Homo sapiens: one gene and its partners. The protein of the gene in region 3 interacts with the protein of the main gene of each other region in a pairwise test. Each region holds a gene or a part of one and is shown on either strand. Other genes may lie near its edges.

Evidence for each region. Proteins that work in one complex are often made in the same cells at the same time.
Region 1: the proteins of PITPNC1 (region 3) and HTATIP2 interact in binary tests that used the Homo sapiens proteins (3 or more experiments, as listed by UniProt).
Region 2: the proteins of PITPNC1 (region 3) and DGAT2L6 interact in binary tests that used the Homo sapiens proteins (3 or more experiments, as listed by UniProt).
Region 4: the proteins of PITPNC1 (region 3) and MAL2 interact in binary tests that used the Homo sapiens proteins (3 or more experiments, as listed by UniProt).

Annotation. Positions count from the first base shown.
Region 1 is NC_000011.10:20,366,714-20,370,213, reverse strand, and holds part of HTATIP2 (protein HTATIP2), read right to left. Parts: intron 3,041-3,500; coding exon 2,933-3,040; coding exon of another isoform or gene 2,834-2,932; exon of another isoform or gene 2,559-2,833; intron 1-2,558. UniProt on the Homo sapiens protein: Represses translation by preventing reactivation of elongation factor eEF1A. May also inhibit nuclear import by competing with nuclear import substrates for binding to a subset of nuclear transport receptors.
Region 2 is NC_000023.11:70,180,483-70,183,982, forward strand, and holds part of DGAT2L6 (diacylglycerol O-acyltransferase 2-like protein 6), read left to right. Parts: intron 1-3,500. UniProt on the Homo sapiens protein: Diglyceride acyltransferase that uses fatty acyl-CoA as substrate. Particularly active with oleate as a substrate. Has no wax synthase activity to produce wax esters.
Region 3 is NC_000017.11:67,380,281-67,383,780, reverse strand, and holds part of PITPNC1 (cytoplasmic phosphatidylinositol transfer protein 1), read right to left. Parts: intron 1-3,500.
Region 4 is NC_000008.11:119,242,768-119,246,173, reverse strand, and holds the end of MAL2 (protein MAL2), read right to left. Parts: intron 2,758-3,406; coding exon 2,686-2,757; 3' UTR 501-2,685; downstream 1-500. UniProt on the Homo sapiens protein: Member of the machinery of polarized transport. Required for the indirect transcytotic route at the step of the egress of the transcytosing cargo from perinuclear endosomes in order for it to travel to the apical surface via a raft-dependent pathway.

The sequences.
Region 1 (3,500 bases), on a different chromosome or scaffold from region 3:
ATCCAGGACCACAGTACCCAGAAAACCAGCAAGTGAGGGGAATTAATACACCCCAATGCCTCTTGAAAGTAGGTTCAACAAGAAGGACAGGGTTGACTGCATCAGGATCTCCCAAGGAGCCTGCTAAAAATACAGATTCCAAGCTTCCAAATTCAGAGATGCTGATGCAGTAGATCTGGATCAGGGCCAAGTCAGGGAGCCAGTGCATTGACTGAACAACTGTGTTCTGTGAATATGAAAAGGAAGATTAGCATCTGCCCAGCTACTGTTAAAGGAAATAGTCTTCCAAACAGCTGAGGAAAGCTAATAGACCTTTTCCTAGAACCAGTGTCAATAGAAACCTGAGTAGACTGAATTTTGTGGGTTGGATTACATCCCCCCAAAATGCGTATGTTGAACTCCTAACCCCCATTACCTCAGAATATGACCTTATTTGGAAATAAGTTCATTGCAGATGTAATTAGTTGAGATCATACTAAATAGGGTGGTCCCTAATCCAGTATGACTAGTGGTCTTATAAAAAGGGGAAATGTGGATATAGGCACAGGTATTCAGGGAAAATACCACGTAAAGAGACACAAAGAGAAGGCTGCCATCTACAAGACAAGGAGAGGGCCTGGAAACTCAAGGGCTCAGCCTCAGAGCACTGACCAGCCTGCTGAGACCTGGATCTCAGACTTCTAGCCTCCAGAACTGTGAGACAATACGTTTCTGTTGTTCAAGCTACTTGGGTTATGGCAGCCCTAGCAAACTAATACACTGAACATCACATGGAAATAAGCCACCTACACAGAGGATCTCAATACTGAGACAAAAACGCTGAATTTCTTGAAGTTTCTCTGCTGGAAACACAGACTGCTAAGGCAATATATGAGGTGTTCCAGTTACAAAATCCCTAGTGAAGCGTACTAGTTTTGCCACTAGCTTTGTAGTACTCATATGATAAACCACCCAACGAACTTTTTTCTACAGAGAGGGCTGCTGACCCAGAACACCAGCTGGGATAAGCTTGGAAATCCACAACCTCCACTTAAAACACTATCGTTACTTAGCCACATATGAACTGTCACCTCTTTCATATTGGCTAAAGTTATCAACCTCCCAACTTTATATTGTACACAGCCCAAATTAGTTTTTTTTTTAAAGCCCCCAAAACAAACAAAACACTTTTCTGGTATAAGTGTCAGCTTGCTTTCCACCACTAACCTCTTAAATCATTTAAGTCCTAATTCATTTCTAAGCTAGGTGAATAGTCTAGGCTCATTAGTCTATTCTTGCTTACTAGTTAATTACTTTTATCTTTCCAAATTGATTTTAAAGGAGAACAAAAGGTATTGAATAGCCTGAGACGTGAAGAACCAACCCCATTAAAAAAGAAAATTCTGGATAGTAAAGACACACAATTCCTCTGATTAAAATTGCATTACCCATTTTGAACACAAAAAGCAGTTTAGACTTTTCCCTGGCACACCCTATAATGAGATTTGCCTTATGTCATGAAAATCAACCCTTCTATGCCTAATGCAGCATTTTGTTTTGCTGACTCACCACCAAAACCAGGTTGGCACTTGAGACAAACCTGCAGTGTCCTGGAACAAAAGTTTTTCAATGCTTTTGGAGGGCACACCACTTGTGACTGTGCCTGGGACAGAAAAGACTGCACCCACTGTTAAGCAGGAACATGACCCTTTCTAGGAGAGATAATGTGCCAATTCCTGGGAAAGTCAAACTTCTCTATAATCCATAGTTCCCATCACAGAGCTCCAATCCCAGCTGTGTTCCAGGACAGATAGGCAGAACTGCAGAAGGTATGGAAATACATCTTGATTGAAAGCATACATAGAATTACTCTTTGCATCACAAGGAGGCCCAAAGAAATACATCTGAATCTAACTACTCGGTTGGTATAAATGAATAGTTCTTCACTATATGCTCCCTTAATGTTTCAGGTGAAGGGGTCTGGCTTATAAACCTAAGGAGAATTCCCATGGCAGAGTCATAGTCATATATATATATATTTTTTCTTTTTTCTTGTTTTCCTGGGATTACAGGCATGAACCACTGTGCCTCGGCTTTATTTATTTATTTACTTTTTTCACTTTCTTCTGTTTTATTTATGTATTTATTATTAAATATTTTTAAATTTTACTTTAAGTTCTGGGATACATATGCAGAACATGCAGGTTTTTTCAGCTCCAGCATGTAAATTCTGCCAGAGGAATAAACTATAGTCAAAGTATAAATTAAATAAGATGTACCCGCACTAACATTTGCCCAGAATCCAGGTAGTAAACTCTGATTTCTAACTATGTAGTAAACTATGACTTCTGTACAGGAGCTGACTCAATTTAGAACACCATTAAAAAGAAAATAAAATGTGCGTTAAAAGACTTTTGCGTCAGTAAAGACTGAATCATTAGTGGGGTTGAATCATCGCTGAAGGCTGAGTCATCGCTGGAGGCTGGTTGAATCGTGCCTGTGTTCTGATGTTCTATTCCAGAAGTTTAAAGCTTGACATGAAAATAAGTTGAAGCAAATCACTCAAGTGAGACAGAACATTTCAAATTTCAAACATTTATTAAGGGGAAAAACAGCTGATTGTTAACAGCATAAACCAATTAGTTTTACTCAGACATCATGGTTTCCCTTAGTCAGGGGATGTAGTGATAGCGATAATCACAATAGGCAAAATCATGTAAATATTTACGACGTCTCCAGCACTGGGGCCTGAACTCAAGGATTACTTTGAAAGACGAACTTATCAGTACTATTAAAAGGATACCAAAGGTTAGTGCAGCATATAGAATCTTAAACAATAAAGGCTTATTCACATTTAAGCATTGCAACAGGCACAAAGAAAAAGAGTGAGCAAGAAAAGAATCCTTGATATTACTGGCCAGCAAAAAGGGAAAAGAGCATATGCCTTCCTTACCGCCCCAGCTTTCCCTCTGGTGGTACCCAGGCAACAGAATCCAACATCATGACCTTGAAAGGCAGAGGCGTAGTCATCCAACTTTTCAAAGTCCACCACTTCTTGATTCTAGGCAAGGACACAGTTGTATGTAGTTTCATGTTATTTAAACAACAGACCAAAAACCCCCTCTAGATTTAAAGACTAAGTTACAGAACATTACTGACAGGCCTGTCCACTTAACATCAAATTTTACAAATTCCTTTTCTCCAACCAAAAAGCAATGAACCTCAGTTGAAAATCAACAACACACACATATGTCCACAGTCTATATAACTGGACTAGGGGTGATCCAGATTTCTGAAGTCAGGTTCGATTATAATCTCTCTCTGGAAAAATAAAAGACCTGTGTGTAGCTAACCAGGAAGGAGACCACTGAGGTATGATGTGAGGGCAAGAGATGGCGTTTGGCATCTTAAAGAAGACCTAGCTGCAAATCTTGGGCTTGCTACACTCACTAGGCATGTAGTTACGGGCAAATTATTCATCATACACTACAGCTTTTTTTTTTCAGCTGTAAAATGGGGGT
Region 2 (3,500 bases), on a different chromosome or scaffold from region 3:
AAATAAAGAATAAACGGGATTTTTTTTCACCTTCATTTTTAAAAGTTATTTTTATTGTGGTACAATACCTAGAACATAAAATTTACCGTTTTAACCATTTCTAAGTATGCTCTAAGTACATGTCATTAAGTACATTCACAATGCATGGCCACCATCCATCTCCAGAATTTTATCTTCCCAAACTGAAACTCTGTATCCATTACACAATAACTCCCTAATTCCCCCTCCCTCCAGCCCCTGGCAACCACCATTCTGCTTTCTGTCTCTATGAATTTGCCTATTCTAGGTACCTCATATAATTGGAATTATTATTCCAGTGTTTGTCCTTTCATGATTGGCTTATTTTACTTAGTATAATGGCTTTAAGGCTCACCATGTGGTATCATGGGTCAGAATTTATTTCCTTTGAAAGGCTGAGTTATACGGTGCCTTGTGTGGATATGCCACATATTGTTTTCCATTCATCTATTGATGGACATTTAGGTTGCCTTGACGTTTTGGCTATTGTGAGTAATGTTGCTATGAACATAGATGTACAAACATCTCTTTGAGACTCTGCTTTCAATGCTTTTGATATATACCCAGAAATGGAATTCCTGGATCACACAGTAATTCTGTTTTTATTTTTATTTTTTGGAATTGCCATCCTGTTTTCCTCAATGGCTGCACAATTTCACATTCCCACCAACAGTGCACAAGAGTTTCAATTTCTCCACATCCTCACCTATACTTCTTATTTTCTGTTTTTTAAATAATAGCCATCCCAATGGGTGTGAGATGATCTCATTGTGGTTTTGCTTTACATTTCCCTGATGATCAGTAATGTTGAGCATCTTTTCATGTGCCTGTTGGCCATTTGATTTGACTTCTTTTAGACTGATTAGCTTTACCATTCCATTTGTCTTTCTCTTCTAGTTTAGGTGCTATACATCTTGTTTCTGTTCTTTTAGTGATTATGCTAGAAATTACAACACAAATCCTGGGTCTTGAAGGTTACCAAGGTAGCTTCAGTGTCCAACAGGGCGTGATGCCCACAGAGGTGCCTAAGACATTCAAATATGTTCAATCCAACAGTTATAGATTAAATACTAATGATATGATCTTGGGCTGTCCTTGCTGTGAGATCCTTGCAGCCTCCTTACTATCTAGTAACAGAGATAAACCAATCATTCATTCAATCATTGTCCGCATTTTATGTGCCAGTGCTGGACATATACACAGATCACTATAATGTAAGACAGACTGTGGTGAGTGAAAGAGCCATGACAAAGTGATATTAGGGTATCGGAATAAGAAATTATTACATAAGTTGAACAGATCAGGGGAGACAGGAAAGGGAATCACCGTGGAATGGCAAACAGGACATGAGTTCTGGAGTTCATCAGACTTAGATGGCAATTAGCTATGTGACTCCAAGCAAGTACTGCAATCCCTCTAAGTCTCAGTATCCCCATCCTCTCAGTCTGGTCCATGGGAAATGCTCCTACAGAAATGTCTGCCTTCCTCCCTTCCTTCCTCCTCTTCTTTCTCGCCTATCTTTCCTTCCTCCTTTTCTTTCTCACCTTCTTTCCTTCCTTCCTTCTATCTTGCTCAGAGCCTCCCTCAGTGCTTCCCCTCCTTCCCAAATGATGTTCAGAATCATAGCTGATTACTGAGCATTACTGGAAGTAATGGGGAGGAAATAGAGAAAATGGAGGAAAGGCAGAGGGACAAGAAGGAAGGAGGAAGCAAGAAGAGAGGAACGAGAAAATGGCTTGGAGGAGATTTGGAACACAAATATTCATGTCCTTAAAATTAGGCTGTGGCTCTGACAGCCCCTCTGAGAGCCAGCTTTCATTCAGAGGATGGCTTTCCCTCATCTCTTCCGGGCTTGTATCACCATCCCCCTAAACTATCTCAATATCCTTTTTCCTGATCGTCTAACCTCTGATCTCCACCCTCTCCAATCTATTCCAGTGCTTACTTCTGGAGGTCTTTCAAAAGCATCTTTTTTTTTTTTTTTTTTTTTTTTTTTTGAGACGGAGTCTTACTCTGTTGCCCAGGCTGGAGTGCAGTGGGGCAATCTCGGCTCACTGCAACCTCTGCCTCCCGGGTTCAAGCAATTCACCTGCCTCAGCCTCCTGAGTAGCTGGGATTACAGGTGTGTGCCACCACACCCAGCTAATTTTTTGTTTGTTTGTTTTTGTTTTGAGGCAGAGTCTCGCTCTGTCGCCCAGGCTGGAGTGCAGTGGCGCGATCTCGGCTCACTGCAAGCTCCGCCTCCCGGGCTCACGCCATTCTCCTGCCTCAGCCTCCCGAGTAGCTGGGACTACAGGTGCCCGCCACGATGCCCGGCTAAGTTTTTTGTATTTTTTTAGTACAGATGGGGTTTCACCGTGTTAGCCAGGATGGTCTCGATCTCCTGACCTTGTGATCCGCCTGCCTCGGCCTCCCAAAGTGCTGGGATTACAGGCGTGAGCCACCGCGCCCGACCATTTCTTTTGTATTTTTAGTAGAGACAGGGTTTTGCCACGTTGGCCAGGCTGGTCTCGAACTCCTGACCTCAGGTGATCTGCCCTCCTCAGCCTCCCAAAGTGCTGGGATTACAGGCGTGAGCCACCGCCTCAAAAGCATATTTGATTACATCCCTCTCCTGCTCAAAAATAGTCAGTGGTTTCCCATTGCCTAAGTGATGATGTATAAAGGTATCAGACTGGGCATTCAAAGCCCTCCTCCATTCTCTGGTGTTAACCCCTTGCCAGCTCGTCCTCCTACTCTTCCCTACGTGATTGCCTTGCGTTCCAGGCAATCTATTCACTAAACAAACAGGAAATGTACTCTCCCACTCCTTCACCTCTGCTCCCACTACTCCCACTACTCCTGCCAGTGGAAAGATGGCATGATAGCTCTTCCTGGACTATCCAGGGACAGCGCCTCCTTTTAGATATTACTCAAGTCATATCTTCTCTGTAACATTTTCCAGACAACCCAAGACTATATCGCCTCTGAAAGTCTAGAGCATTTTGTAAGAATGGCTGGGTAGCAGCCATTATATCTTTGGTGCCCTCTACCCAATAAGCTCCATGAGAACAGGAGCCCTTTCTTATCATTATTATATTTCATGCAAGACCAAGCTTGACACTAACTTGAAGGTCTTCCAGATTTCTTCTTCCTCAGCAGAAATCTTTAAATTCACTCTTATTCTTTTTTCTCTCCCTTGGACATCCTTTTTGGGTGTGTGGGCCTGCCCTCTTTCTCTGGTTTCTGGTACTGTAAAAAATAGAACAGGTTGGGTGCAGTGGCTCATGCCTGTAATCCAAATATTTTTGGAGGCCGAGGTGGGAGGATCGCTCGAGCCTGGGAGTTTGAGACCAGCTTGGGCAACACAGTGAGACTCCATCTCTACAGAAAAAAAAAAAAATCAAAAAATTAGCCAGGCATGGTGGTGCATGCCTGTGGTCCTAGCTATTGTGCAGGCTGAAATGGGGGGCTCCTTTGAGCCTAAGAGGTAAAGGTTAGAG
Region 3 (3,500 bases):
AGGCATGAGCCACCGCGCCTGGCCAGAACGGTTAAACAGTAAAGAAAGCAATGAAAACAAAAGGATTCCTGCCTTAGATAATATTAGGATGTGCTTAGCGTCTCTTGAGAGACGCTCATTTTACTAACAAGTACCTCTGTGGCGAGGGTGGCAGGTGCAGGGTGATCTTCAGACTGTGCTCCAAGGAGCCTCCTTGGTGAGCAGGTCGCTCACTGGGACCGAGTGGCTGCGGGAGGAGGTGGGCCACCCTTCCAATAGGTTCCAATGGGGCTACCCTATGTGTCCCGCTAAGCAGACACAAGGTTGGAGTCCCCAGCCACCTTCAACTAGAGAGTAGAGCCAGTGTACCTGCTTTACACATGGGTCCTCAGGAGAATATTTTCTTCCACCAAGGAATCTCAGAGGAGGGAGAATTCCATATAGTAGAACAGCCTTGAGCCTTAAATCAGACCTGGTTCTAGCCTAGAGTTTGTCAATGAGGTAGACAACTTAACTGCACCTACTACAGGTCTAGACTTCATTATAAAATGAAATGGCTCACCGGGCATGAACTCTCAGGAGTTCGAGACCAGCCTGACCAACATGGTGAAACCCCATCTCTACTAAAAACACAAAAATTAGCTGGCTGGGGTGGTACAAGCCTGTAAATCCCAGCTATTCTGGAGGCTGAGGCAGGAGAATCTCTTGAACTCGGGAGGCAGAGGTTTCAGTGAGCCAAGATTGCGCCACTGCACTCCAGCCTGGGTGAAAGAGCAAGACTCCATCTCAAAAATAAACAAACAAATAAATAAATAAATAAATGGCTCAATTATAAATCATCTCCAATACGCCTTCTAAGTCTAAAACTCTAGAATCATCCGGGGGCAGTGGCTCATGCCTGTAATCCCAGCACTTTGGGAGCCCAAAGTGGGCGGATCGCCTGAGGTCAGGAGTTCGAGACAAGCCTGACCAACATGGTGAAACCCCTTCTCTACTAAAAATACAAAAAATTAGCCTGGCGTGATGGTGGGCGCCTGTAATCCCAGCTACTCGGGAGGCTGAGGCAGGAGACTTGCTTGAAACCGGGCGGTGGAGGTCGCAGTGAGCCGAAATCATCCCACTGCACTCCAGCCTGGGCGACAGAGCGAGAGAGTGTGGCTCAGAAAAAGAAACAAACAAACAAAAACTCTAGAATCTACATCTACGTCTACCAAATGTTTCAAATGAAGATAATGACAACTTTCTCTCTATAGCAACTCTCAGCTCTCAGGAACTTTTCCTGTTCATACCTTTCCAACAGGCTTATATTGAGTTCAGAGACCACCACATTTAACACAAACGAGGGACTATTCCAATGAAATGTTTTAATTAAAATTAATCTATGGAATGTTACTTTTATTAATTCTTTACTCTGAAATTAATGTCTAAAACACACACACACACACACACACACACACACACACCAAAAAACCCCACCAACACTCTAATCTAGACAGTAGTTCAGCTTTATTTTCTTGATCGCCCAGAGCTGTTCTTTTTTCCTGGAACTAGAGAACATTTTATGTGTTAAAATAAAGCTAGAGAAATAGTAGAGGCCAGTACCGTCTATAGCAAGTCAAAAGGCCTCTGATTTTTCATTTACTTGATAGTGCTGACTTTATCTGTTTTCAAGAAATGTTTTTCCTTTTGCTGGATTAAACACTAGTGACAGGCAAAAAGCAGAGTAAGGAAAAACAAATAATGGGTTTCACCATGCTCTCCTTCTGGCTTGGCTATTAACTAGTTGTGTGGCCTGGAGCACATTACCTAACCCTTCTGAATCTCAATGTATTCATCTGCAAAATATAGATAATAACACACCAGTGCCACTAATGCTCCACCGCCCGCCACCACCAGAGTGTTAAATGAGGGAGAAGGGATAAGGCCAGGCACAAGAAGCAGGCAAAGTGTGGGTTCTCTCACTGATTCTTCAAAGCATGAGCATTTGCTTCATTTTCAAAAGTATGGACACTGCTACCAATGAACTCTGGTGATTAAAGAGAAACAAGTAGGCCGGGCGCGGTGGCTCACGCCTTTGGGAGGCCAAGGCGGGCGGATCGCGAGGTCAGGAGATTGAGACCATCCTGGCTAACACGGTGAAACCCCGTCTCTACTAAAAATACAAAAAATTAGCAGGGTGCGGTGGCTGGCGCCTGTAGTCCCAGCTACTCGGGAGGCTGAGGCAGGAGACTCGCGTGAACCCGGGAGGTGGACCTTGCAGTGAGCTGAGATTGCACCACTGCGCTCCAGCCTGGGAGACAGAGGGAGATTCCGTCTCAAAAAAAAAAAAAAAAGAGAGAGAAACAAGTTCCAGAAGTTCCATGTAGGTTGAATCAGGCCCAGAGCCAACCAAGAGTGGAAGCAAAAGTTAGGCTCCCAGGCCGGGCGCAGTGGCTCATGCCTGTAATCCCAGCCCTTTTTTTTTTTTTTTTTTTTGAGTGGAGTCTTGTTCTGTCGCCCAGGCTGGAGTGCAGTGGCGTGATCTCAGCTCACTGCAAGCTCCGCCTCCCAGGTTCACGCCATTCTACTGCCTCAGCGTCCCAAGTAGCTAGGACTACAGGCGCCCGCCACCAGGCCTGCTTAATTTTTTTGTATTTTTAGTAGAGACGGGGTTTCACTGTGTTAGCCAGGATGGTCTCGATCTCCTGACCTCGTGATCTGCCCACCTCAGCCTCCCCAAGTGCTGGGATTACAGGCGTGAGCCACCGCACCCGGCAATCCCAGCACTTTAAAAGGCTGAGGCAGGAGGATCACTCAAGCTCAGGAGTTCAAGACCAGCCTGGGCAACACAGCGAGTCCCTGTCTCTACAAAAAGTAAAAAAATTAGCCGGGTTGGCAGCACACACCTATTGTCCCAGCTACTCAGGAGGCTGAGATGGGAGGATCACTTGAGCCCAGGAGATGGAGGCTGCAGTGAACTAGGATCACGCCACTGCACTCCAGCCTGGATGACAGAGCGAGACCGTGTCTCAAAAAGAAAAAAAAAAAGTTAGGCTTCCAAAGTTTACCTAAACATCTTATTTAAAGAAACTCAAGTTGCTTCCTCATTTTCAATGTGGAAAAAGGGTCAGTGGAAAAGGGGATGGTGGAGACTGTGGAATTTACTATCAGTTCTGACTCTAGGGGTTTAACATCTGGCAAACTAGGCCTCATTTCTTCATCCATCATCAGATTTAGCTAATCTGAATCCTACTAATTGGAAACATCTATTAATCTAAATTGCCCTCCTGCTTCTCTGACAAAGCCGAAAATGACTTCAGAATATGAACCTTACAGAAACTGAATCATACTTTGGCCAAAATGAATTATACATTAAAGAATTTATAATTATATTACAGGTGGAGTCTGATGAGTCTGATTTTGTTGGCCAATTAAGAAAGGAAGGGCTGGCTGGGCGCAGTGGCTCATGCCTGTAATCCCAGCACTTTGGGAGGCTGAGGCAGGCGGATTGCCTGAGGTCAGGCATTCAAGACCAGCCTGGC
Region 4 (3,406 bases), on a different chromosome or scaffold from region 3:
GGTTTTTTTTGTGTGTGTGTGAGACAGGGTCTCACTCTGTCACCCAGGTTGGAGCCTCAACATCCTGGGCTAAAGCAATCCTCCCACCTCAGTTTCCCAAGTAGCTGGGACTAGAGGCACGTGCCACATGCACCCAGCTAATTTTTAAATTATTTTGTAGAGATGAGGTCTTGCTATATTGCCCAGGTTGGTCCTGAATTCCTAGTGTCAAGTGATCCTTCTGCCTCGGCTTCCCAAAGTATTGGGAATACTGGCATAAGTCATCACACTCGGCAAAACAGAATTCTCATTTAAACTTCCTTTGCAACGTTACTTCCAAAGACTTGCCTCTTTCACCTTCATCAAAGAAAAAAGACTTACTGACAATTCCTGAGAGACTTTTACACAGAAATGTTTAAAACAGAACTTTTTATACATTATAATTCTATAAGCTCTGCCAAATTTATATCAAACCTTTAACTGAATTTCAAAGTGAATGGTGTAAAAGATGACCACAAAGATTATCAAATGAATACTTTATTAGAGACATAACACGTATAAAATAAATTTCTTTTCATCATGGAGTTACCAGATTTTAAAACCAACCAACACTTTCTCATTTTTACAGCTAAGACATGTTAAATTCTTAAATGCCATAATTTTTGTTCAACTGCTTTGTCATTCAACTCACAAGTCTAGAATGTGATTAAGCTACAAATCTAAGTATTCACAGATGTGTCTTAGGCTTGGTTTGTAACAATCTAGAAGCAATCTGTTTACAAAAGTGCCACCAAAGCATTTTAAAGAAACCAATTTAATGCCACCAAACATAAGCCTGCTATACCTGGGAAACAAAAAATCTCACACCTAAATTCTAGCAGAGTAAACGATTCCAACTAGAATGTACTGTATATCCATATGGCACATTTATGACTTTGTAATATGTAATTCATAATACAGGTTTAGGTGTGTGGTATGGAGCTAGGAAAACCAAAGTAGTAGGATATTATAGAAAAGATCTGATGTTAAGTATAAAGTCATATGCCTGATTTCCTCAAACCTTTTGTTTTTCCTCATGTCTTCTGTCTTTATATTTTTATCACAAACCAAGATCTAACAGGGTTCTTTCTAGAGGATTATTAGATAAGTAACACTTGATCATTAAGCACGGATCATGCCACTCATTCATGGTTGTTCTATGTTCCATGAACTCTAATAGCCCAACTTATACATGGCACTCCAAGGGGATGCTTCAGCCAGAAAGTAAAGGGCTGAAAAAGTAGAACAATACAAAAGCCCTCGTGTGGTGGGAACTGTGGCCTCACTCTTACTTGTCCTTCCATTCAAAACAGTTTGGCACCTTTCCATGACGAGGATCTCTACAGGTAGGTTAAAATACTTTTCTGTGCTATTCAGCCAGAAATAGTTTTTGTGCTGGATATGATTTTAAAACAGATTTTGTCTGTCACCAGTGCAAAAACATTACAGATGTCTGGGCTAATACAAAAACACATAAGAATCTACAACTTTATATTTAATACTCTATTCAAATTTAACTCAAAGTAATGCAAAATAATTAGAAGTAAAAACTTAATTCTTCTGAGAGCTCTATTTGGAAAAGCTTCACATATCCACACACAAATATGGGTATATTCATGCACAGGGCAAACAACTGTATTCTGAAGCATAAATAAACTCAAAGTAAGACATCAGTAGCTAGATACCAGTTCCAGTATTGGTTAATGGTCTCTGGGGATCCCATTTTAAGCACTCTCAGATGAGGATCTTGCTCAGTTGTTAGACTATCATTAGTTTGATTAAGCAACTGAAGTTTACTTCATAAATTACTTTTTCCTATATCCAGGACTCTGCCTGAGAAATTTTATACATTCCTCCAAAGGTAAGTATTCTCCAAAGGTAAGTATTTGACTATTAACACAAAGGCAATGTGATTATTGCATAATGACACTAAATATTATGTGGCTTTTCTGTTAGGTTTATAAGTTTTCAATGATCAGTTCAAGAAAATGCAGATCATATATAACTAAGGTTTTACACCAGTGGTTGACAAACTATGGCCCACAGGCTAAACCCAGCCTCCCCTTGTTTTTATAAATAAGTTTTATTAGAACATAACCACACTCATTCATTTCTGTATTGTGTATAGCTGCTTTCACGCTATACTAGCAGAACTGAATAGTTGTGACAGAGACTGTATGGACCGTGAAGCATAAATATTTACCATCTGGCCCATTCTAAAAAAAGTGTGCCAATTCCTGGTTTACACTAAAATATAGAGTTTAGTGGGAAGCCTATTTGAAATGTGTTTTTTTTAGGGGCTGTAATTACCAATTAAAATTAAGGTTCAGGTGACTCAGCAACCAAACAAAAGGGATACTAATTTTTTATGAACAATATATTTGTATTTTATGGACATAAAAGGAAACTTTCAGAAAGAAAAGGAGGAAAATAAAGGGGGAAAGGGAAAAAGGGGAGAGATGTAAAATAAAAGGCCATTTCTTTAATATCATAATAAAATTAACATTCCATCCATGAAATAAACCAGAACTTGAGCTTAGAGTCTCTCTCTACTAAACACATTACTTTTGGAATGTTTTTGCATCTGGACAAAATGGTATCCAAATTGATCAGACATATAAAGTAGACAAGTGAAACTAACATACGACTGCCAGTTTCTAAGGAGTGTTACGGTCGCCATCTTCGTAAAGCCAGACCCAAACTGCAACCATAACAAGCTGTCGTCATAAAGGCAAAAATCTAAGAAAAAAGAAACAAAAATTCACATCAGATTTACAACACCGACTTATAAACAGTGTCCTAAAGAACAACCATATGAAGTTTGACCAACAATCTACCTAAAGATACTTCGACACTTACAAAAATATTTTACATTGTTTTTTTTTTTTTGATGATTTGTACAACTGTTTTATTCCCTCATACAATTACCCTCCCCCCTTCCTTTAAACATTTTAGCTCCTAATAATTTTCTCATTTGTGGACAACTTTACACTGAACATTTGTTCAATCTGTTCACATTCTGGGCTCACTTAAGTATTTGTGAATCCCTAAGCACTGTATTTAAAAATTCAGCATGAAGTTCTGTTCATGTAGTGGCTTCACAGCCAAGGAAGCCAGCAACTATCAGAACCTGAGGATGCATCAAATAATTTCTATGATGATGGAAGGTAACTTTAAAACTCAACTAAGACAAGTGGAAATGAATTATCAGGTTGGCTTGCTCTTGTATGGGAGACAGTCCTGTGTACAAATCTGCACTCTACTTGGAATTAATGAGAATTTCTTCAGCACCAACTGTGTGTATATCACTATACTTGGTACATATAAACAAACAGTAGATAATGTCCTCACCCTTTTGGGGCTTATGATCCATAGAAGACTAAAAGAC